2 linked regions of the Homo sapiens genome follow. Each later gene encodes a partner of the first gene's protein in a complex. Each region holds a gene or a part of one and is shown on either strand. Other genes may lie near its edges.

Region 1 (11,490 bases):
TAGGTGCTGAGTTGTAGTTTGTGAAGACCACAGTGGGGAAGAGTGGTGTCCTCTTTTTTCTTGGTGGTCAGGTGGTGTGTGCAGTGTGCAATTTCCATACTTCCCCAACCTGCCTGGCGCCCCTCATTACAGTCAGGGTAATTTACAGAAGTTGAAATCGTTGTGGCTTTTCAGTTTTTTCTCCTTGTATTTAATATGCTGAAAGGCAGTTTTGTAATCAAACCATATAAGAAATAGCTTAATTGAGGTTTGCTAAGTGAAATGCGTTCCGAAAGGCATCAGATTAACAAGCTTATTATTTAATCATAAATTTAATTTGTGTACTTATCTTTGAAACTTGCATTGGTTAGAAATAAATTTTATCCGGTATTTTGAAAAGTTAATGTGAGTTGAGTTGACTTATTTATATGAAACAAAGGCATGGCTTATTCATTAGAAGTTACCCTCGTGTTGCCTACATTTTCTCAATTGTAACAGGGGGATGATGATAATCTCATTTTCTTAGGACTGTTGTAACACAAACATGGAAATGTTGTCTGGTTTTGCTATTTTCACTATTACTGATTTTTTTCTTCCCCCCCCGAGTTGGAGTCTTGTTCTGTCACCCAGGATGGAGTGCAGTGACACGATCTCAACTCACTACAACCTCCACCTCCTAGGTCTTCAAGTTATTCTCCTGCCTCAGCCCCCCGAGTAGCTGGGATTTACAGGCACATGCCACCACACCTGGCTAATTTTTGTATTTTTAGTAGAGACGGGGTTTCAGCATGTTGCCCAGGCTGGTCTCGAACTCCTGGCCTCAAGTGATCCACCTGCCTTGGCCTCTCAAAGTGTTGGGATTACAGGAGTGAGCCACTGCGCCCAGCTTACTGAATTTTTAAAATATTCTACCTTGTAGCTGTCAATCTATTAGCAGAAAGTTTTGTTTTTGTTTTTGTTTTTTTGTTTTGTTTTTTTTGGCTTGTTTACACATGTATCTGGGCAGAGAAAACAGCTTCTGAGCACAGAATGCATATTTGGAGAAAGCAGTTCCACTCTTTTTGAGTAGGAACCAGACAGAAAAAAAGATAACATGGGTACTATTCTGTAGAAGAGTAGCTGAAATTAAGTGGCAGCAAATTCAGGGAGAAATGTAATTTGGTTTAATGTTCGGGAAGATTGCCATTTTTAAAAGTGAGATTTAAAGAATTTATTGAATTTAATGCAATTTCCATAAGTAAGCACAAGTTTTGACAAGTATATATTTAAGGTGTTTTTATGAAGCAGTCTTCACATTATCTTAAAATGTAGTTCTAAAATACGTGCAGGCTGGGTGAGGTGGCTCATTCCTGTAATCCCAGCACTTTGGGAGGCCTAGGTGAGTTTAGGAGCCCAGGAGTTCACCAGCCTGGGCAACATAGAGAGACCTCATCTCTACCAAAAAATCAAAAAATTAGCCAGGCATGGTGGCTCACACCTGTAGTCCAGCTGTTGGAGAAGCTGAAGTGGGAAGATCGCTTGAGCTTGGGAGGTTGAGGCTGCAGTGAGCCATGATCCTGCCACTGCACTCCATCCTGGACAACAGTGAGACCTTGTCTCCCCCCACCCCCAAAACATGCAAATTGGGACATCAAATTGTTAATGGTGTTTACAATGAACAGTGCCTTCAGGTAGCTGCAGCTACTCTACATAGATTTGCAAGTTTTTGTAGTGATAGGCTATGGTAGATGTTACCAGCCAAGGAGTGGCTGACAAACTCCTTTCACTGTTATTTCATTGTCATGTTAAAATTCATATTTTCCGTCAAAATAGTGATAGCTAGGATTATAATCTAGGTCTTCTAATCTTAGTAACGTGTTGTCTATGTTAGGGCCTCTCAAAGTTGTAAAAAAGCTGTATAGATGTGTTACCATCAATCGATTTCATTTGTTTTTATCCTAGTGTTAAAGGTACAAGTTTTTTTTTTTTTTTCTTTCCTGAGGCGGACTTTCACTCTTGTCGCCCAAGCTGGAGTGCAATGGTGCGTTCTTGGCTCACTGCATCCTCCGCCTCTCGGGTTCAGGTGATTCTCCTGCCTCAGCCTCCCGAGTAGCTGGGATTACAGGTGCCCTCCACCACACCTGGCTAATTTTTTTTTTTTTTGTATTTTTAGTAGAGTTGGGATTTCACCATGTTGGCCAGGCTGGTCTTGAACTCCTGACCGCAGGTGATTCGCCCGCCTCGGCCTCCCAAAGTGCTGGGATTGCAGGCGTGAGCCACGGCGTACCTGGCCAAAGGTACAAGTTTTAAATATGCTTTTATCATGCATACAGTACTCTTATAGATTCTGTCAGATTTAGGGATATTCTTTTCAGATTGATAAATTGCACAAAAATCTTGGAGTATATTCTTGTAATTTCTTCTACAAAATTCTCAAAACAACCTTTTTCCAATGGGGAGAAGACATGAACACTGAAGTCATGTTTTTGGAAAATACCTTGTTAAAAACAGACACTGCTGTAAGGGTTTCCTTGCTTATGCTCTTTTGTAGAACTTTATTGATGTGAAGAGTTCTCCTTTTTCTGTAAAAGCTTATTTTAGAGTACGAAGTAAATGAGGCACTCAGAGAGTTAACCTCATCAGGTCTGAGTTTAGTTCAGTTTAAACTTTTTGCTCTTATGCTGGTTGATATCTTTGTAACTACTCTACTTCTAGAGTTATTTTGATTGGAAAATGAATTCCTTTTTTAGAACATGGAATTGTAAGGTAGAAAACTGCTAGGTTCTCAAAAGAAGGGAGATAAATTCCAACTTGAAAGTTTTTTCCCCTAACGTTCTAATGCTTTGTTTTTCCTGTGTGTAAATGCCTTCCTTAGGAACAAGGAAAATTATTAACTCAGCTGTGTTTCCTTCCCTTCTCTTTCTCACTGCCCCCCCGCCACCCCATACCTTAATACCTTTTGTCCCTTCAATGCCTTTATAAACTCTGTCTTCTCATAGTTTTTCTGGTGAAGCTGTCATGGCTCCTATTTCAACCATAAAGGATTTGCAGTTCAGTGATGCTACTGGTTTTACATCTTCTTTCCCATCAACCCCATTGCCCTGGTTAGGAGACCTAGACCATGGAGTACATTGCAATATTGAAAGTATTTCATGTTTAACACAATTTTTTTTTTTTTTTTTGAGACCGAGTCTCGTTCTGTTGCCCAGGCTGGAGCGCACTGGCACGATCACGGCTCACTGCAACCTCTGCCTCCAGGGTTTAAGCGATTCCCCTGCCTCAGCCTCCTGAGTAGCTGGGACTACATACAGGTGCGTGCCACCACGCCCGGCTAATTTTTGTACTTTAGTACAAATTGGGTTTCACTGTGTTGGCCAGGCTGGTCTTGAACTTCTGACCTCAAGTGACCCATCTGCCTTGGCCTCCCAGAGTGCTGGGATTACAGGCGTGAGCCACTGCGCCCGGCCATGTTTAACACAAATTTGAAAGCGTACTGCTTAGTTTTTTAGGGGGAGTATGATAATCATAGAGATGAGACTTGATCTTTGCTGAAAGTGTTCTTTATGAAGTCTGATGTGCATAAATTTGCCCAATAAAATGCTCTTTTATTTACACAAATCATTTTAGTCGCACTGTAGCCAGAGTGTGGCATAGCCTGATGGCTGGCCTCTTTTCAGAAACTCATCAGGACTGCCCTAGGCCTCGCCCTGTGTGTGCTTCCACTTCTGTGTCTTCCTTCTTGCCCTGCCCCACCTTTTAATCAGGACCACGCCTCCCTCTCCTACCTTGGTGTTGCAAACGTTGTAGCCATTGCTGTTGGTAGATTCTTTGACTGAAATTGAATGTCCACCTCCTTTAAAAAAATTTTTAAAATATTTACTTAGCTCCTTAAACCATCCTTAAAAAGATATTTTAGGAGTCCTCCAGACTGCTTTGCATTAACTTCTGAGATTATGCTTCTCTGTTTCTGTAGCAACTAAGTGTACCTTTGTGTTACTTAGCACATAATTAATGTAAGCTCCTTGTGAGTGAGATTCTCTTTTTATGCTTGTCACCTCTGCCCAGCCCAGGGACTGGTAAACTGTAGATGTTTAGTGAAAGTAATTCAAGTAAAGAGATAAGAATGCTCAAAGACATCTCCCACCTGTGTTCCAGAGAAATTGTTTGCTGATTGTATACTTGCACATTTCTGTAAACAAATAGGAAAATCTTTACTCAAAAAGCATACATTAGAAAGTTTCTTATAGAGTATAAAAGTTATATTTACAAGTTTTTAACTGACTTTTCATAGCTACATTTAGCGCATAAAGTATTTTCAGATAGAGTAATTTAGCCACATGACCTTTAAATTATACTGTTTCTCAGTCTTTAAAAACGTGCCCTCTTTCGGCCAGGCACTTTGATTCACGCCTGTAATCCCAGCACTCTGGGAGGCCGAGGCGGGTGGATCACCTGAGGTTAGGAGTTCGAGACCAGCCTGGCCAACATGGTGAAAACCTGTCTGTACTAAAAATACAAAAATTAGCCAGGCGTGGTGGTGCGTGCTCGTAATCCCAGCTACTTGGGAGGCTGAGGCGGGAGAATTGCTTAAACCCGGGAGGCAGAGGTTGCAGTGATCTGAGATCACACCACTGCACTCCAGCCTGGGCGACAGAGTGAGGCTCTGTCTGAAAAAAAATGAAATAAAATAAAATAAATGCCCCCTTTTAGATAGCCATAGAATTTCTTACCTTTATTTTGCTTTAAAATAAAAACATCATGTTAACCCAAAATGAAACAATTGCAATATTGAAAATGTATCTTTTAAACTTTAGTGGATGTTTTTCCATTTTTTATTTTCTGTTAAGTATTGCTAAAGGGCCTGGCATAAAGGAGGGCCACTGAGATTACGGTAAGAAAAGGGTTCATTTTCTTCCTGTGGCAGGTGTTCTGACCAGTTGAACACTAGGGATGCAAAGATGAAAGGCAACAGGATTTTTCTGTAAGGCCCGTCATCCAGCAGGAATAGGAAAGTGCATTGTTCTATGTAAAGCCATAGAGACTGGCCTCTGGAAGTGGCTGGCTCTCAGCTGCATGCTTCTTTGGATAGTCTGCTACAACAGTCACATATATTATGGTGTATCCTGCCCTGCACTCTCCTTGTCTCCCCTTCTTGCTGTACTTTTTTCATAGTATTTATGACACTATAACATACCATATAATTTACTTACTAATTTATGTATGGCCCGTCTTCTCATACTTGAATGTAAACTCTTATGAGATCAAGATTTATATTTTGCTCCTCAGTATGAACCTAAGCCTTAGAACAATATCTGGTAGGTAGCATGCGCTAAATAGTTGATGAGTAGATCCCAGTATGGTGAACAAGAGGGATAGATTGCCATCTCTTGGAGTTTGGTGTCCATTGAGACAGGTGGACAATCACATAATCCAATAAGAAAGTGCAGTGCACTGACATCCGGCCTGGATGGGAGGGATCAGAAGGCTTCCCTGAGGTTGTGATGGTGGCACCGAGGTTGGAGGGATGGTGGTGGAGTGAGAGGTCAGCAGAGAGAATTACCTGTGTAGTGCCCCAAGTGGGAAAGGTGCAGAGTGCTTTGAAGGAACTAGTGTGAACAAGGCTGAAGGAAGAGAACGCGGCTGGGAGGTAGGTGGAGAGTTTTATTTTACAGAGCTTGGGAGGTCCCATATAGGTTGATTATTTTGCCCTTTATCCTAAGACCAGTGGGAAGCAGTTGGAGGATTTTATGTCATAGAATTGTCTTTTTTAAATGATTCTGCTTTGCAGAGTCGTGTGGAAGCAGGGAGTGGTCACATGTGGGTGTTACTGGGCGGCAAGGTAGGGAATCTCTTTCTTCTTGTGTACACCTCTCTTCATAGTTGAAAAGGCCAAGCCCCAGTCTAAATGAGACCAGCCAGCTTCCTTAAAATCCCTTTAATTTGTATTACATATAATCGTGTATGTTTAAAAAATATTTTATTTTTTTGAGACAGTTTGTGTCACCCAGGCTGGAGTCCAGTGGCATGCTCACAGCTCTCTGCAGCCTCGACCTGGGCTTGAGCGATCTTGCCACCTTAGCCTCCCGAGTAGCTGGGACCCATGGGTGCATGCCACCACACCTGGCTAATTAAAAAAAAAATTTTTTTTTGTAGAGGTGGCGGGTCTCACTATGTTGCCCAGTCTGGTCTCGAATTCCTGGGTTCAAGCAGTCCCAGAGTGTTGGGATTACAGATGTGAGCCATTGCACCTGGCCTAAAAATGCTTTAAAATTTGTTTATAAAATATGTCTTAAATTTGCTAATATTTGCCAGTTGTTTAAAGTATATTTGTTATTTCAGATAATTTCAAACATGCCTTTTTTAGGAGTGTCTCTGAAAAATGAGAACATTTTGTTTTCACATTTCAGAGAGCTTTGTTTTTATTGTCAGTGCTCAAAATACAGAGATGAAAACCTAGTGATCAATTTGGTATAGATGTACAAATTGCTTCAGTTATTGTTATCTGTTAACATGTTGAACATTCTCTTTTTAAAAATATCAGGTCCTTTAAAATTTTCTTTAAAGGTGGCTTCATGCTTTTCTGAGCATTCTTTTTATCTTTGTTGATTACATATTTGTATTTCATTGTTGAGATTATCGTCTGTGTAATTTTTGCCTTATCAGTCAGAGAATACCAGTAACCTTTAGGAGGCATGTACAGATTTTTTTTTTTTTTTTTACTGGGTCCATAAAGGGGGAAAGTTTGGTCAGGTTGGGGAGCAGTCACACTTCTTCCTGAGAGGTAGTAAATACCAGGCTCTCCATCTGGAGGAGGGGTCAGTAAATCACGTTTGCAAAGGAAAAGATGCGGTAATTGGTAGGATTCAGACCTGTGCCGGGAAACCCCAATGGATTTCTAGTTCATTGCTTTAACCATTCAGTCCTGACTTTAAAAGTAGACTTGAAGTCCCTATGGGAAGCTACCTTCTAAAAATCTAGACATTTGAAAGGATGAAAGCATTGTCTCTTGTGCTTTTAGGAGGTTAAAAACATTTAAACCACGGATAGAACACTGGCATTTAGTGTTTCTTGAGTACTGTAAATACAGTAGCTTACTGTGAAAGTCTTTTTGGGTGGACTTCTGTCTGGCATGATTTGTTTTTTTTTTTGAGGTGGAGTCTCACCTGTTTCCCAGGCTGGAGTGCAGTGGCACAGTCTCCGCTCACTGGAAGTTCTGCCTCCCAGGTTCACGCCATTCTCCTGCCTCAGCCTCCCAAGTAACTGGGACTGCAGGCGTGTGCCACCACGCCCAGCTGATTTCTTTGTATTTTTAGTAGAGACGGGGTTTCACCATGTTAGCCAGGATGGACTCAATCTCCTGACCTCAAGCAATCTGCCTGCCTTGGCCTCCCAAAGTGTTGGGATTACAGGCGTGAGCCACTGTGCCCGGCCTGCGTAGCATGATTTTAAGTTCTATGTTCCATATTCCTCTGTGGTTAATATCCATACCTCCAGTGATACTTGTTATTTATTTATTTATTTATTTATTTATTTATTTATTTATTTAACAGACGGGGTCTCGTTCTGTTGCCCAGGCTGCAGGAGTGGAGTGTAGTGGTGTGGCCACTGCTCACTGCAGCCTCCAATTTCTGAGCTCCAGTGATCCTCCTGGCTATTTAAATAATAATTTTTTGAGACATGAGGTCTTGCCATGTCACCCAGGCTGGCCTCAGTCTCCTGGCCTCAAGTGATCCTCCAGCCTCAGCCTCCCAGGTTGCTGGGAATATGAGTGTGAGCCCCTGTGCCTTGCTCCATTGACAGTTGTTACCAGGCTAAATTGCTAGTTCAGGTTGCCTTTCAGTGGGTCACTTGGAGCAGGGGTCCCTAACTCCCAGGTTGTCCGACCCGTACCCATCATGGCCTGGTAGGAACTGCGCTGCACAGCAGGAGGTGAGCAGCAGGGTGAGTGAGCATTACTGCCTGAGCTCCACCTCCTCTCAGATGAGCAGTTGCGCTAGATTCTCATAAGAGCTCAAATCCTACTGTGCACTGCACATGCAAGGGATCTAGGTCGCATGCTCCTTATGAGAATCTAGTGCCTGATGATCTGAGGTGGAACAGTTTCATCCTGAAAGCATCCTCCTCACCACCCCCCACCCCCTGACCCCTCCGCTCTGTCTGTGGAAAAATTGTCTTGCATGAAACCTGTCAGTCCCTGGTGCCAAAAAAGATTGGTTACCGCTGACTTGGAGTACTGACCATTGTGAAAATGAGTAACTGATGAATCAGCAATAGTTGCTTCTTCACGCTGTCAGTGAAGACCAAAGAATGAATATGGGAAGCAGTATTACCAGTGTTGCTGCGTGTGCACGTGGCCTTCAGTTTTTCCCTGCTCTTCCCATTTCTTTGTACACACCGATGAATTTAATCTCTTCTGCTGAAATCATTATTCTTTAGGGCTCAGTACAGGAGAGTTAAACCTAAGCATGAAAGGACTGGAAATGGGATGTAGAATTGCCAAATAAACTGTAGAAGCATTGAGGCACTTAAAAATCTCCATGACCTGGAGAAATTCCAGTGAAGAGTAAACTTTTGCAGTGTGCCTTAGGATTCCGAGTGACCACAAGTTTTATTATCTTTCAGGCAAGGCCACACAGATTCTTGGCATACTATTTCCTGTAAGTTCAGAATTTTGGAAGTGTGTTGGTCATTGTGGTAGTCCTCCCCCTCCCCGCGTCCCCCTGCCAACCTTACAGGAAAGAAAGAAGTGGTAGTTTTATTCTGTTATTGAGAATAGGTTTTTCATGAAATCACATGAAGTTACAGCTCAACATAAATAACTGTAGACTAGATGTTTTCCCAAAATCGTTATATGGCCACAAATTGTGTTAGATAATTATATGAGCAAGGCAAATAAATGCTGGATCATTAACTTCCAGTTTTCTTTCTTTCTTTTTCTTTTTTTTTTTGAGATGGAGTTTCACTCTTGTTGCCCAGGCTGGAGTGCAATGGTGCGATCTCGGCTCACTGCAACCTCCACCTCCTGGGTTCAAGCGATTCTCCTGCCCCAGCCTCCTGAGTAGCTGGGATTACAGGCATGCACCACCACGCCTGGCTAGTTTTGTATTTTTAGTAGAGACAGGGTTTCTCCATGTTGGTCAGGCTGCTCTCGAACTCCCCACCTCAGGTGATCCGCCTGCCTTGGCCTCCCAAAGTGCTGGGATTACAGGTGTGAGCCACCATGCCTGACCCTTAACTTCCAGTTTTCAATTTGATGTTGGGAAGTGTGGTTAGGTAAATTTATTGTAAAGCATATATTTACGAAATGTTTAATAATAATAATAGTGAACATAACATTTAATCAGCCTTAACCCAGTTGCATGGAGTGTTTTCTTTTTATCAGTTCCATCGTTATCAGTCTGGAATTAAAAGACTGAAGGAACCTTTAATTCTTTTTAATTCCTTTTTTTTGAGACAGAGTCTCACTTTGTCCCCCAGGCTGAAGTGCAGTGGCTGTATCTTGGCTCACTGCAATCATCACCTCCTGGGTTCAAGTGATTCTCGTGCTTCAACCTCCAGAGTAGCCAGGACTACAGGCACGTCACCATGCCCAGCTTATTTTTATAGTTTTAGTAGAGACAGGGTTTCTCCATATTGGCCAGGCTGGTCTGCAACTCCTGGCCTCAAGTGATCTGCCTGCCTTGGCCTCCCAAAGTGCTGGGATTACAGGCCTGAGCCACTGTGTCTGGCCTGATTAATTCTTAATTCATAAAATGTTAGGTGTGAATTAAATAGTACTTTTGAAGTAAGATGTTTATATTCTAAGACTGTGAGTTTTGTTCTACGTTATTTTGTCAACTGAGATTTGGTAACTAGTTTGTGAAAATAATTGTCAGAAAAACAGTGTAATATTGCAGTTGCAGTCTTAGGATTTTAGATCTCTGAAGACTCAGAAACTGAAGCCCATGAGGTAAAATTAATTAGAGATACAGCTGGCTAGTTGGTGACAGAGCTAGGACTGTAACGAGCCTCCTCTTTAAGTCCAGCATCCCGTTGCACTGTAATTGCAGAGTTTACTGTGGTCGCTGTTAAGGCGCACCCTCCGCTGTGGTATATCAAAAGAAATTGGTGAAAGCATTAATTTTATGTATGTTAGATAATTTAAATAAGTGTTTTAACTTTTTGAGGTAGATTTTTAAAGCAGTTATTAGACTGTGCTTTTTAAAAGATTGAAATATATTTACTCCAGGAAAATTAAGTGTTTTGTCATTTTAGATAATCCATTAACCTTAATCCAAATAGGGAGGTGCTAATTGGTGTTCTGGTTAACACCCTCCGGTTTGTATCGTGTAATCAGACTGCAGCTTACAGTTCATCTTTGAGAAATAGTCTAAGAGAAATTCATGTAAATTAAATGGTTTTCTTCCTAAAGCATTCAGGGAGAGTTGTTCATTTTAACGTCCACGCTGTTAACACAGGAGTCTGTGTGCAGTCTTGGATCCAACTTCAACACCTGTGTTCATACCCGTCACCTTTGTGTAGAGGAACTCACACTAGAGATAATGTGACTTGCTGTGAGCTCTCCTGGCCTTTGGTTTACTGTCCTCAGGCAACTGTGGTGTGTGTCAGGATCTTTCACACTATCTTACACTCTTAAGAAACTACAGCAAATTGCAACAACTCCCACCCTCAACAATGTATTGGACTTGTAATTCAGAGGATTGAAAGCCCCCTCCCTTTTTTCCCCCCATTTATTCTTCAGAACACTTGTTTTACTGTTTGGGAAACTGAGTCTTGGTGACAGTTTGCTTTACATCATCCAATACAGGAAGAACAGAAAATGGGAACTTTATAGCTTCTTGCTTATAAGCCTTTTGCGTGGCAGGAGAGAATTCTACCACTGAACGACCCATGCACCGATGCTTATAAGCCTTTTGCAAGTAATACCCAGCTCTTAGAGAGGGTCAGCGTTCTGTGCAGCACCTTGGATCCAAATAACATGATGTATTTGGGGGCTTAAGTCACACATCATAGTTCAGCATCAGAGATACAGGCCCTGTACTTAATAGTTTAATAACTTAATTATTTAAATATTTAATAGTTGAATAATTACTGTTAAACAAAGTATTAATAGTAATTTTCATTGTGGTTATCTTTTTTTTGAGACGGAGTCTCACTCAGTTGCCCAGGCTGGAGTGCAGTGGCTTGATCTCCGCTCACTGCAAACTCCGCCTCTCGGGTTCACGCCATTCTCCTGCCTCAGCCTCCCTAGTAGCTGGGACTACAGGCGCCCGCCACCACGCCCAGCTAATTTTTTTGTATTTTTTTTTATTAGAGATGGGGTTTCACCGTGTTAGCCAGGATGGTTGCGATCTCCTGACCTCGTGATCCACCCACCTCGGCCTCCCAAAGTGCTGGGATTACAGGCGTGAGCCACCGCACCTGGCCCATTGTGGTTATCTTTGAAGCCAGAGATATCCTATGCTACAAGATTGAGTAAAGTTATCTACATTTCCGAACAGTAATTCAGAATCATTGGAAGTGATAGGAATT
Region 2 (12,356 bases), on another chromosome or scaffold:
TTTCCTCACTGGCAATACTGTAGTTTCCTGCCTGATAGGATTCCGTGAGGAGGCAATAAAATTACCCAGGTTCAGCCAGGAGCAGTGGCTCACGCCTGTAATCCCAGCACTTTGGGAGGCTGAGGCGGGTGGATTACCTGAGGTCACGAGTTTGAGACCGACCTGGTCAATATGGTGAAACCCCATCTCTACTAAAAATACAAAAAATATAGCTGGGCATGGTGGTGGCCACCTGTAATACCAGCTACTCAGGAGGCTAAGGCAGGAGAATCGCATGAACCCAGGAGGCAGAGGTTGCAGTGAGCTGAGATTGTGCCATTGCACTCCAGCCTGGGCAACTAGAGTGAGACTCCGTCTCAAAAAAAAAAAAAAAAGAAAGAAAAAAGAAAATTATCCAGGTTCAATAAATATCCATGCTCCATTAATATTAGCTCTTAATAAAATTAAAATTTCTTCTATTTACCTGAAAAGTATTTTTGTCCTTCTTTATATCTTTTTGTTGTTTGTTTAGAGACAGGGTCTCCCTCTGTCACCCAGGCTGGAGTGTAGTGGTACAATCACAGCTCACCGCAGCCTCAACCTCCCTGGCTCAAGTGATCCTCTTGCCTCAGCCTCCCAGTAGTGGGGACCACAAATGCACACCACCGCACCTGGCTTTGTTTTGTTTTGTTTTGTTTTAACTTTGTAGAGATGAGGTCTCACTGTGCTACCCAGGCTGGTCTTAAGCTCCTGGCCTCAAGCAATTGTGCCACCTCGGCCTCCCAAAGTGCTGGGTTCACAGGTGTGAGCCAGCCACCATGCCCGTGCCTGGCCAAATACTTTATATCTTTTTTTTTTTTTTGAGATGGAGTCTAGCTTCGTCACCCAGGCTGGAGCACAGCGGCGTGATCTCAGCTCACTGCCTTTGTCGCCTAGGCTGGAGCACAGTGGCGTGATCTCAGCTCACTGCAACCTCCGCCTCCCAGGTTTAAGCAATTCTCCTGCCTCAGCCTCCCAAGTAGCTGGGATTACAGGTATGCACCACCATGCCCAATTAAGTTTTGTATTTTTAGTAGAGATGGGGTTTTACCATGCTGGCCAGGCTGGTCTCAAACTCCTGACCTCAAGTGATCTGCCCGCCTCGGCCTCCCAAAGTGCTGGAATTACAGGCATGAGTGACCGTGCCCAGCCCCAAATACTTTACATCTTAACCTATGTTCTTAAAGTATTTGTGCCTTAAGAACAGTGGTCCTAGAATATGACCCATTGCAAGAATATTCTCACTGTGACCCCTCTTGGGAGTTTTTTTGTTATGCATCTAATATTTAATATTGTCTCAATGGGGTCATTGCATTTTTCTGTTCTCTAAATTAGTTTAGGACAGTAACAGTTGTATCTCTTTCATGTGTCTGCATGTGTATGTCTCTTTTATTTTTATTTTTGCCCCTCCCCAGCCTCCTGTGTATGTCTCTGCTTAATACTTCTGTCACACATTTGAACTTGGTATCTACCAAATCAATTGATGTGTGGTAATAGAGAGAGATAAGAGGTATTCGATAAGTGGTAGCGCTGTACATTATGCTATTAAAATTTACATATAGGCTAGGTGTGGTGGTTCACGCCTGTAATCCCAGCACTTTTGAGGGCCGAGGCTAGTGGATCACCTGAGGTCAGGAGTTCAAGACCAGCCTGGCCAACATGGAGAAACCCCGTCTCTACTAAAAATACAAAAATGAGCCAGGCTTGGTGGTATGTGCCTGTAATCCCAGCTATTTGGGAGGGTGAAGCAGGAGAATCACCTGAACCCAGGAGGCGGAGGTTGCAGTGAGCAGAGATCGTGCCACTGCACTTCAGCCTGGGGGATGGGGCAAGACTGTCTCAAAAAAAAAAAAAAAGAAGTTTACACATAATATTTTACTCAAGTCTTACAAGAATCCTATTAGGAAGGTAGTAGTATCCCTGTTTTGTTTTGTTTTTTTTTTTGTTTTTGTTTTTGTTTTGAGACAGAGTCTTGCTCTGTCCCAGGCTGAAGCACAGTGGTGCAATCTCAGCTCACTGCAACCTCCACCTTCCGGGTTCAAGCGATTTTCATGCCTCAGCCTTCTGAGTAGCTGGGATTACAGGCGCACGCCACCACGCTTGGCTAATTTTTTGTATTTTTAGTAGAGACAGGGTTTCACCATGTTGGCCAGGCTGGTCTCGAACTCCTGACCTTGTGATCTGCCGATCTTGGCCTCCCAAAGTGCTGGAATTACAGGCGTGAGCCACCGTGCCTGGTCGTAGTATCCCTGTTATATTGAACAATCATTATAACAACTACACTGGTTTAACATAGATGGCTATGCCATTAGAAAAGCACCTTGTAACAAACCTTAGTATTTTGAGATTTCTCTTATTGTCTTCTACAACAAAATCACTAACTACATTTTTTTCCCATTATTGTTTCTGTGTTTCTGAGTCTGTGTTTATGACCCTTGACCTTATGACCCTTGATCCTGCCACAGCATGTTAGCTCTAAACTCCAGGAGCTCTTTCAGGGAGCGTTTCCTGACACGCTGGCTGGGTTCTCATTTCTAGTGCTGAGCTTGGAAGTAGCGGACTTTTGGTACCCAAAGTCAGGCAAGCAGGGACAAGCAAGGACTTCTGGACAACAGGAGGTTCTGGACCTCCAAAGCTGAGGACGCTGTATGGCAGTGATCCTACTAATGTTCTGAGATCCCCTCTTTGATGTTAGCAGTCTGATTGCTCGCCATTTTCTCAGAACTAATGTCAGCTTACAACATCTGACACACAATCTAGAAACAGGACCCCATTTCAAACTCATATAAATTCCTTTCTTCATTCTTGGTTGGTATGAGAAAAATATGCAATGCGTATGGAAGAAAACATAAACTCTAAGTGAGTCTCATTATAGGAATTCCTCTGATCATGGGCATGACAATTTGCAAATCTGAGTAGGTGTTATGTTCCTCACCAACCTGGCAAACCAATTAAGTGGGAAGCTCATCTTCTGAAACATTGCATAGTTTTGATTTTATCACAGACATCATATAATATTTTTTCTATTTCAAGGATCTACAGAAAGTATACCCCTTCAATTGAGAGGGATCTGTTCTCAACGAATACACTTATTATCCATTTCAAATAAATCTCTCTATATTACCTAAAGATCTTAAAAGGCCAGGTTATCTTACATACATTACACAAGATACTATAAATTATCCTGGATATATTCTGAATGTATCCTGGATATAACCTGAAAATTACTTATAAATTGCTAGTGAAGTTCAAGTGAATAAGCTCTCTGGAGAACTTTACAGTTTACTCATTAAATAAAAACAGGTTAATTGAATGACTTTAATGTCATTAGATATTCTTAGGCACCCACAGTGAGATGCTGCACATATAAAGACATTATTCTGTCCCACAGCTTGCAATCTAAAATTAGATAAACACAGGCAAGCCAGATAAACATAGACAGCACATTTTTTAAGACAAAAAAAAATGATAGGAGAGAAAAATGAGAGTAGTGAATCAAAAAGGCAAAAGGAATCAACAAATATTTCATCTTCTGCCTTTTATTCGTAGCCTTAATTACCTCTATCACAAGCAATCAGACTGCTAACATCAAAAAGGGGTCTCAGAACATTAGTGGGATTACCACCATACAGCGTCCTCAGCTTTGGAGGTCCAGAAACTCCTGTTGTCCAGGAGTCCTTGCTTGTCCCTGCTTGCCTGATTTGGGGTACTAAAAGTCCACTACTTCCAGCACTAGAAATGAGAGCCCAACCAGCATGTCAGGAAGCGCTCCCCGAAACAGCTTGTGGAGCTGAGAGGTAACATGCTGCAGCAGGCCAAGCAGTCTGGAGGTGAACACGGCCCTAGGTGCCCATGTGACCATCAGGTTGAGACCTCCCAACTAACCCTCATCCTATATGGTCAGTCTACAAGGCCTAGCTGGCCCTCTCCCTGAAGTTAGGTTTAAAAAGAAAAAATACACCCTCAGTGTGCCAGGCTTCACGGTAGATGGTTGGGATGCAGATAAACATGACATAAGCCTTCTTTTGGCGCTTACAACTTATTTTGGGAGATCGCTCATAAACACACTATTTTGATATAACGTAGTAAATGTAGTGGCAGGGTTGGCGGGGGGCAGGGGAAAAACCAAAGGAAGGGTGCCCAATCCTACCTGGTGGTCAGGGAATGGTAAGTTACTGGCGGAGAGGAGGAAGAATCTGAGAGGCAGAACCAGGAAAGTGTAGCCCAGACGCCAAGAGAGTGTGTGACAAAAGAGAGGGAGGAAAACAGTGTCAAACTCTGCAGATGTCCAGTAAAATGGACCTGAAGAAAGTCCATTGGATTTGTCAAATAGAACAGGGATCATTGGCAACTGTTGATGGGGCAATTTGAGTGCAGCTGGAAGTCATACGGTAGTGTTGAGGAACTAAGGAGAGAGAAAGCAGAAATGAAAAGCTTGGCTATGAAAAAAAAGTGAATGAGAGAGGAATATGTCATTAAGAGAAGATTGGTTTGTTTTCTTTTTGATCTGAATTGACCAGTTTCTGATCTGAGCGAAAGCAGCTGGCTGGAAATAAAAAGAGGTGATTGATGGATCAAGGGAACAGGTTCTTGGTTTCAGTTCCAGATCCCACTCCTGTTTCCTCCTGGGCTCTGACTCTCTCTCCTATTCTATTAAATAGCAGCTCCTTGTCCTCAGGTATGGACTTTGCTTCTACTTTCCCTTGCACATACTCAACTGTACCTCCATAAAATATGACAATGACATCTACTAAGTGCAAGAGCCACAGCTGCATAGACGTCCTGATGACTGGCTCCCTTCCCAAACTATGTATTCACCTACAAAGCACTAATATACTTTTCTAGTGATGAGAATGCTTCCATTTACCATCCAGGGCATCACTGCCTGTCAAGCTGCCCTGGAAGCCTAACAACTGTTTATTTTTTATTTATTTGAGTCTCGTTCTGTCACCAGGCTGGAGTGCAGTGACGCAATCCTGGCTCACTGCAACCTCCGCCTCCCGGGTTCAAGCGATTCTCCTGCCTCAGGCTCCCGAGTAGCTGGGACTATAGGCGCGCGCCACCACGCCCAGCTAATTTTTGTATTTTTAGTAGAGACGGGGTTTCACCATGTTGGCCAGGATGGTCTCGATCTCTTGACCTCGTGATCTGCCCCCCTTGGCTTCTCAAAGTGCTGGGATTACAGGCGTGAGCCACCGCGCCTGGCTACTTTTTGTATTTTTAGTAGAGACGGGGTTTCACCATGTTGGCCAGGCTGGTCTCGAACTCCTGACCTCAAGTGATCAGCGTGCGTCAGCCTCCCAAAGTGCTGGAATTACAGGAGTGAGCCACCGCGCCCGGTCACATTTTATCCTCTTTTTAATAGGAGCAAAATAGTATTTATGTGGGATTCCACTGGTTTAAATTCTAATTAAATGAGACAAGATATAAAGTACTTAATTCCACACCTAGCAATACAGTTGACATCCATTAAAGTTTATTGAATTAAGGAATAAATTGGGCAATCATTTAACTTCTTTGAGACTGTTCCTGTAACAGTAAAGTAAAATTATTACTACTTGCTCCACCTCCCACACCAGATTGCTCTCAGGAACAAATGATAGTATGTTTACGCGAGTGCTTTAAAAACTGTAAAAGCACTTTACTACTTTCGAGTGGAATTTGTATGTTGATTTAATGTCATTCCTAGAGCCGGTTTTTATTACTATCAATTCGTTAAATTTAGCATTCCTATTAAAACCCACTACTAATGTGCAGAATTGTTTTAGTTATTTATAAGGACGTTGTTTTAGACTATTCCTAATTTTGTCTGGTTGCAGGGCTGTGGTGCCATATAGTAGTGATTGTGACAAACCCGTACTTTCAGGAAAAACATTCACTTTTCTCCACTCCTGGTTTCTATCGCCAAGAAATGTCTGGCAGAAGCAGCACAAATCAATGATTCCAGCCTAGCACCTTAAGGTAAGAAGTGACCAAAGACCCCCAACACAGCTATCCCAAATTAAAGCCACTTTGACCAACGACAACGTCCAGTGAAGACACGGAGGAGGGTCGGGCTGGAAAAGAAGAGGACGAGGAACCCGAGGGGCCCTCCCCTCTCTCTCCCTGCCCCCCAACCCCGCGCCGGGAGCTCCAGCGGTGCCGGGGTCCAGCGCGCAGGACGGTTGGGGGGTCCCGGAGCGGGCGGCCAGGACCCGCGCAGCCAGTTGGTGTCAGCGAGCGCCGCGGCCGTTGGGGACTCCAGCTCCCAGCAGGCACCGCTTCTGCGGCCGACGCGCGTGGCGGCGGTGCCGGCTGGGACTCGTAGTGCGGTCCGGGTAGGAGAGAGCAGGGGGCCACGCTGGCTCCATCTACGCACGTTTCGGAAACCGGGCCCGGAGGGGACCACGCCCGCTCACCCGTGCCCGGCGTCCCCCGGAGCTGGGGCTAGAGGAGCCGGGCCGGCCGCAGCGGGAAGAGGCCACAGGCGGCCGCGCACGTGGGGGGTGGTTAGCGCGGAGGAACCCGGAAGCCCTTTGCACCGCCCACCGCCGCGGTGACGGGTTAACGCTCCTCCTGGTGGAGGCAGGGGCGGGCGGGGCGGAAGGCGGGGACGCCTCAGCCAACACCCCCGAGGACCGCCCGCGAGCCGTCCTCCCCACCCCCACGGACGCGACGCAGCGCGGGCTCCGCTTCCCCGGCCGCGGCGCCTGCGCAAAAGCCCCGCCCCTTCGCCCGAGCCCCACCCCCACACCGCAGCCTCCACCGCCGCCACCTCTCCCTTCCTCTCTGCTCTTTCCTCCTGTTTTCTCTTCCCTCCTCCCCCTGGCCTCCGCGTCTCCTCCTACTCCGGCGCTGACGCTCGCGTAGGGGCCCTGGCGTCAGACGCGCGGGGGCGGGGCGAGTGCGGCGCGGGGTATAAGTAGAGGGTGCAGGAGGCGGTGCTTCCCCTTCTCCCCGGCGGTTAGTGCTGAGAGTGCGGAGTGTGTGCTCCGGGCTCGGAACACACATTTATTATTAAAAAATCCAAAAAAAATCTAAAAAAATCTTTTAAAAAACCCCAAAAAAATTTACAAAAAATCCGCGTCTCCCCCGCCGGAGACTTTTATTTTTTTTCTTCCTCTTTTATAAAATAACCCGGTGAAGCAGCCGAGACCGACCCGCCCGCCCGCGGCCCCGCAGCAGCTCCAAGAAGGAACCAAGAGACCGAGGCCTTCCCGCTGCCCGGACCCGACACCGCCACCCTCGCTCCCCGCCGGCAGCCGGCAGCCAGCGGCAGTGGATCGACCCCGTTCTGCGGCCGTTGAGTAGTTTTCAATTCCGGTTGATTTTTGTCCCTCTGCGCTTGCTCCCCGCTCCCCTCCCCCCGGCTCCGGCCCCCAGCCCCGGCACTCGCTCTCCTCCTCTCACGGAAAGGTCGCGGCCTGTGGCCCTGCGGGCAGCCGTGCCGAGATGAACCCCAGTGCCCCCAGCTACCCCATGGCCTCGCTCTACGTGGGGGACCTCCACCCCGACGTGACCGAGGCGATGCTCTACGAGAAGTTCAGCCCGGCCGGGCCCATCCTCTCCATCCGGGTCTGCAGGGACATGATCACCCGCCGCTCCTTGGGCTACGCGTATGTGAACTTCCAGCAGCCGGCGGACGGTGAGCGCCGGGCTCCGCGGTCGGCCGGGCGGGCGGGCGGCCATGAGGCTCGGGCGGCGGCGGCGGGCGGGGTAGGCCGGCGGGCCCGGGGAGGGGGGCGGGAGGGCATGTCACCCCGCGACGGCCGGCGGGAAGGCGCCGGGGTCCCTGGAGCCGCGTTTCCCGAGCCGGCGGGGACCCGCGCTGCCGGCAGCCACACGCCCGGCTACTTCCTCCTTTGCGACCATTTTCTCGGCCTCAGACGCTCTCAAACTTTAGGGTGATGACGCGCCGGGAGGGTGGGTGAGATTCGGTTCCTCCGCGGCGCTCCCGCCAGTGGCCCCGGGATTCTGGGGCGTTGAACGCTGAGCTCCTTCCGTGGGTAAGAGGTGGAGGCGCTCCCACCACCCGGAGCTCCTGCCGGCGCCCCAGCCTGGGGAGGAAGTGCAGTTCTGTGCTCGAAAAATACCACGTGTTGAACCCTGTAACCTCGCAGGCCCGAGGCCTGCTTCTGCTCCTGCTCCTGGCCCAGTCGCCTGGGGGAGCCACCAGGCCTTAGGATAAAGTTCCTGTGGCGATGTGTGGTGTGGTGGTGGTCCTCAGGCTTGTGAGTCCACTTCCCAGAACTCATCAGTGACTGATGGATCTAGGAATGGAATTTACCGGAGACATGCATTTGGGGTTTCCCCTAGATCAAGCATTTCTCTAACATTAAAAGGGCAGAGTGGGAGGAGGGGATGTGGCAGCCGACCACTTTGAAGGCCAGTTTTCTCAGGCAACTTAGACCATTTTTAGTCAAATTTTATCTTAGATTCACAGTACTGGTGGTTTTCGAGTATATTATGTTACCTTCTGAAATAGTTCCTGTCGTTTTGAGGGGCTTTTCTTTATAAAATAGTCAACTTTGGCTATAAAATGTTACTTTAGTGTAATTCCAACTGGACCAGTCTTATCTGTAGCATGCAAGAAGTTCAAGTTTCTCTTTTATTTTTAAAAGTGGCCCATGATACCTGTAAATCTTGGGAAATGACTGAGTACAAAATAACGGAGATTAAATTGAGCTTGAAATTTATGGGGGAAATGCAGCTAACTTTGTGCTTTTATTTTGAAGCTAAACAGTTAACAGAAACACAATTTTGTAAACAGATAATATCTGTGGTCTGTTGAGTTGCTAGGATTTGTCTTTAGATCAATTGGCTTTGAGAAGTCAGCTTAATTCCATTTTACGGCCCAATTTTGCCTTTTTCCCCCCCTACAGGCTGGCCACTTGAATACATGTCAAATAATCGAAATATGAAGAATTCATTTTTATTAGAAAAGGCCTTAAGGGTGGAATTTAAGCTCCTATTAACATTCATTCAGTAGAACTTAGGTTACTGATCAGCTCTTCACTGTGTAAAGTTGATACTGATTTTGGAAGCAGAATATTGAGTGACACAGAGCCAGAAGTTGTAAAACTGCACTGCAGGTTTCCTGCCCTTTTGCTCTGTAAGCAGTAACTCCAAATGTCACTTCATAACAGTTCTTGTCAACCTTAGGCAGGATGTATCAATGCATGTCAGATGGGGGTAGATAACTTTGGGGCAGGTTATCACAACCTAAGAGTTGGTGGAGAAAACATGGGAATGAATTCTAGAGACCACAAAATGAAAACTTGAAAGTGTTACTCTTTCTCAGCTTAACGTTTTTAAATCCAAAAAACAATTTTTACATTTCTTGGGATTCGAAGAGTTGAACTTCAGGTTGCCGTGGTTACAGTGTACAGTATATATTATCAGTCTGTACCAGTAGACCAGTACCCTAACTACTGAAAAGAATATGGCAGTTTTCCATTTGTCTAGTTTCTGTATGTACAATTTACTATCCAATTAATTACTTAAGTGGATTTCTTGTTCTTTTTTAAAAACTTATTGCTACATTGATAGGCAGAATAGCTTCTGAAAGTGACCAGTTTTCAATTTCATAGGAAGAGGTGACTCATTGAAAAATAGCTCAAGCAAAGTCAGCTAAAAAAAAAAAAAAACTAGGGAAGCTGAGTAGGTGTGGTCAATTGATAATGAGCTAACAGCTGATTATCACTATATTCTAGAAACTGGAACTTTCATTTATAAAAAAAGAGGTGGCCGGAAAATTCATCCTGTCAATAACTTTTAAATTTACATTGGCATGGAATTTGTAGGAATTGTTTCAGGGCTTAAAAGGGACCGTTTTCCCTCTCTTCGGGGACTAGTCTTTTTATTTAAGGATGTGTTATTTCATTTAGAGCCTTTAATGGTACAGGTATACATAATTCAATCCTTTATAGATCCTGAAATTAATTGTAGATTTTGAAATTTTCTAGCAGTATTCAGAAATAACTAAATCAGTTGTTAAGAAAATCAGCGATCTAAAGTGAAATTGATTGTATGTGTCAAGAGAGCGTTAATGGTGATTTCTGAATATTGCAGACCTGGTGTTTTTAAAATTCTGTGATTATGAAACCAAATATGTCTAACTTCACATTAGCTTTTGAAAGCATGATTCAAATCTTGGTCTAGCCTTTCATTTTCTTAAATGGAAGTTGTGCCATGAATCACTGAAACCCTCCCTCCCCCCAATAATTAAGAAACTTTCATTTTTTAGGAAATGGACTAGTTTTCATATAATATTGTTAGTTATTAGCAATGAAATGACCAATTTTAGCAAGTAGTTGGGAAGAAGTTAAAATATTTAAATCTATAAACTACTTCCAGCTTGTAGATAAATCTGTTGCGTAATGTCTTTTATACTGCTTATTAAACAGATTGTATGTGAAGGAATTTGGATTTTGATAACTAGGAAAAAAAGTGCTTTAGATTTAATGGCAATTAAGGCGAGAGATTGCGTCAAGAATTTATTAATTATTAGCAATATGGAATTCTTTTATATGTGAGAAATTTCGGGGGCTTCTGGTATTTGTCTTTGCTTTATACAACTTAGGTCCCACACTAGTGTGTGATACTTGAAAGGTCTAGCCATCTTGAAGCTTAAAGAGGAAGCGTTCAACTGTGAGACCATGTGTCCTCCCACTCCAGTCACCATAGTTTATATAATCTTAAGTAGCCAGCAAAAATTTTGAAGTAATATTGACTCTGAAAATGTCCTTCCTGCAGCGGAGCGTGCTTTGGACACCATGAATTTTGATGTTATAAAGGGCAAGCCAGTACGCATCATGTGGTCTCAGCGTGATCCATCACTTCGCAAAAGTGGAGTAGGCAACATATTCATTAAAAATCTGGACAAATCCATTGATAATAAAGCACTGTATGATACATTTTCTGCTTTTGGTAACATCCTTTCATGTAAGGTAAGCCAAAAATGTCCGATACACATGTTTACATTGTTGAGCTACATTTAGTTTAGTGCTTGAAATAGGAACTGTGCAGTAATGGATATCTTTATTTCACAAATATCCAGGTTAGATGGCTAACAGATTGTCTCTCAACACTGAACAAATGTTAAATCAATAGCAAATAAAGAAAAATGGGTATATGTTTTTCCCTAGGTGGTTTGTGATGAAAATGGTTCCAAGGGCTATGGATTTGTACACTTTGAGACGCAGGAAGCAGCTGAAAGAGCTATTGAAAAAATGAATGGAATGCTCCTAAATGATCGCAAAGTGTAAGTTATAAATATCTAGCTAATCATATTTTGAATCTTATTTTTAATAATTCCAAATCCATTCATTTTAAGTTAATATTTGTCAGGGAGAAGTTAGATGCACATAAGATAAAAGAATAAAAACATTTTAAAGATGAATAACAAAAATTCATGTAGTTGTACTGGAGTGAAAATTAATAAGCTAATCTTGATTTTTACAATTGAATTTTCTACACAGTAAGTGTAACATACAAATAACAGGTTTAATATAATTAACATTCATGCCAAAAGGAAAACAGAAGATAAGTAAACAGAAAAATGTAGCTTTTTCAAAATGAGTGCATTAGTGAAAAATCAGGAATTCAGACAAACCTAATATTCATAATTCTTGAGGTACTGGTTAAATTAACCCATTTTATAGGTGAGGAAACTCAAAGTAATTTGCTTTTATGTACTGTAAAATGAGAGACATACATTACTCACAAGTCCGGGCGCGGTGGCTCATGCCTGTAAATCCCAGCACTTTGGGAGGCCGAGGTGGGCGGATCACCTGAGGTTGGGAGTTTGAGACCAGCCTGACCAACATGGAGAAACCGTCTCTACTAAAAATACAAAATTAGCTGGGCATGGTGGCGCATGCCTGTAATCCTAGCTACTCGGGAGGCTGAGGCAGGAGAATCACTTAAACCCGGGAGGCGGAGGTTGCAGTGAACCGAGATTTCGCCATTGTACTCCAGTCTGGGCGACAAGATTGAAACTGTCTTTAAAAAAAATAAATAAATACTCACAAATGCCTGTTACCAGGGCTTTAGGAGGAAAAAAAAGCAAGCCCAACACTGGCAGGATCCAGAAAAGAATGATATGTTGCTGTTTTGAGTAAAAGTGATATAACTCTTTTGGAAATTTGTAACTGTCCTAAGAAGAAATACACAAAGTGTCTTTCATAAAGTTTCAGCTTTACTGCAGTGTGCCTTTATTCCCAGCCACTGGGAAGCTGAGGCAGGATGCTTGAGCCAAGGCTGTAGTGTGTTGTGATTGTGCCTGTGAACAGCTATTACACTCCAGCCAGGGCAGAATAGCAAGACCTTGTCTCTTAAAAAAGTTGCAGCATTATTTA

Evidence for each region.
Region 2: the proteins of LARP4B (region 1) and PABPC1 are in contact, whole or in part, in a crystal structure (PDB 3PTH), measured with the Homo sapiens proteins. Residues at the interface, in NP_055970.1 of Homo sapiens: Leu56, Asn57, Pro58, Asn59, Ala60, Glu61, Val62, Trp63; in NP_001425211.1 of Homo sapiens: Gln560, Gly563, Glu564, Phe567, Gly579, Lys580, Thr582, Gly583, Met584, Leu585, Leu586, Glu587, Ile588, Lys606, Glu609, Ala610, Val613, Leu614, His617.

Annotation. Positions count from the first base shown.
Region 1 is NC_000010.11:918,690-930,179, reverse strand, and holds part of LARP4B (la-related protein 4B), read left to right. Parts: intron 1-1,515; exon of another isoform or gene 1,516-11,490. UniProt on the Homo sapiens protein: Stimulates mRNA translation.
Region 2 is NC_000008.11:100,716,677-100,729,032, reverse strand, and holds the start of PABPC1 (polyadenylate-binding protein 1), read left to right. Parts: upstream 1-6,944; 5' UTR 6,945-7,449; coding exon 7,450-7,642; intron 7,643-10,752; coding exon 10,753-10,946; intron 10,947-11,144; coding exon 11,145-11,260; intron 11,261-12,356. UniProt on the Homo sapiens protein: Binds the poly(A) tail of mRNA, including that of its own transcript, and regulates processes of mRNA metabolism such as pre-mRNA splicing and mRNA stability.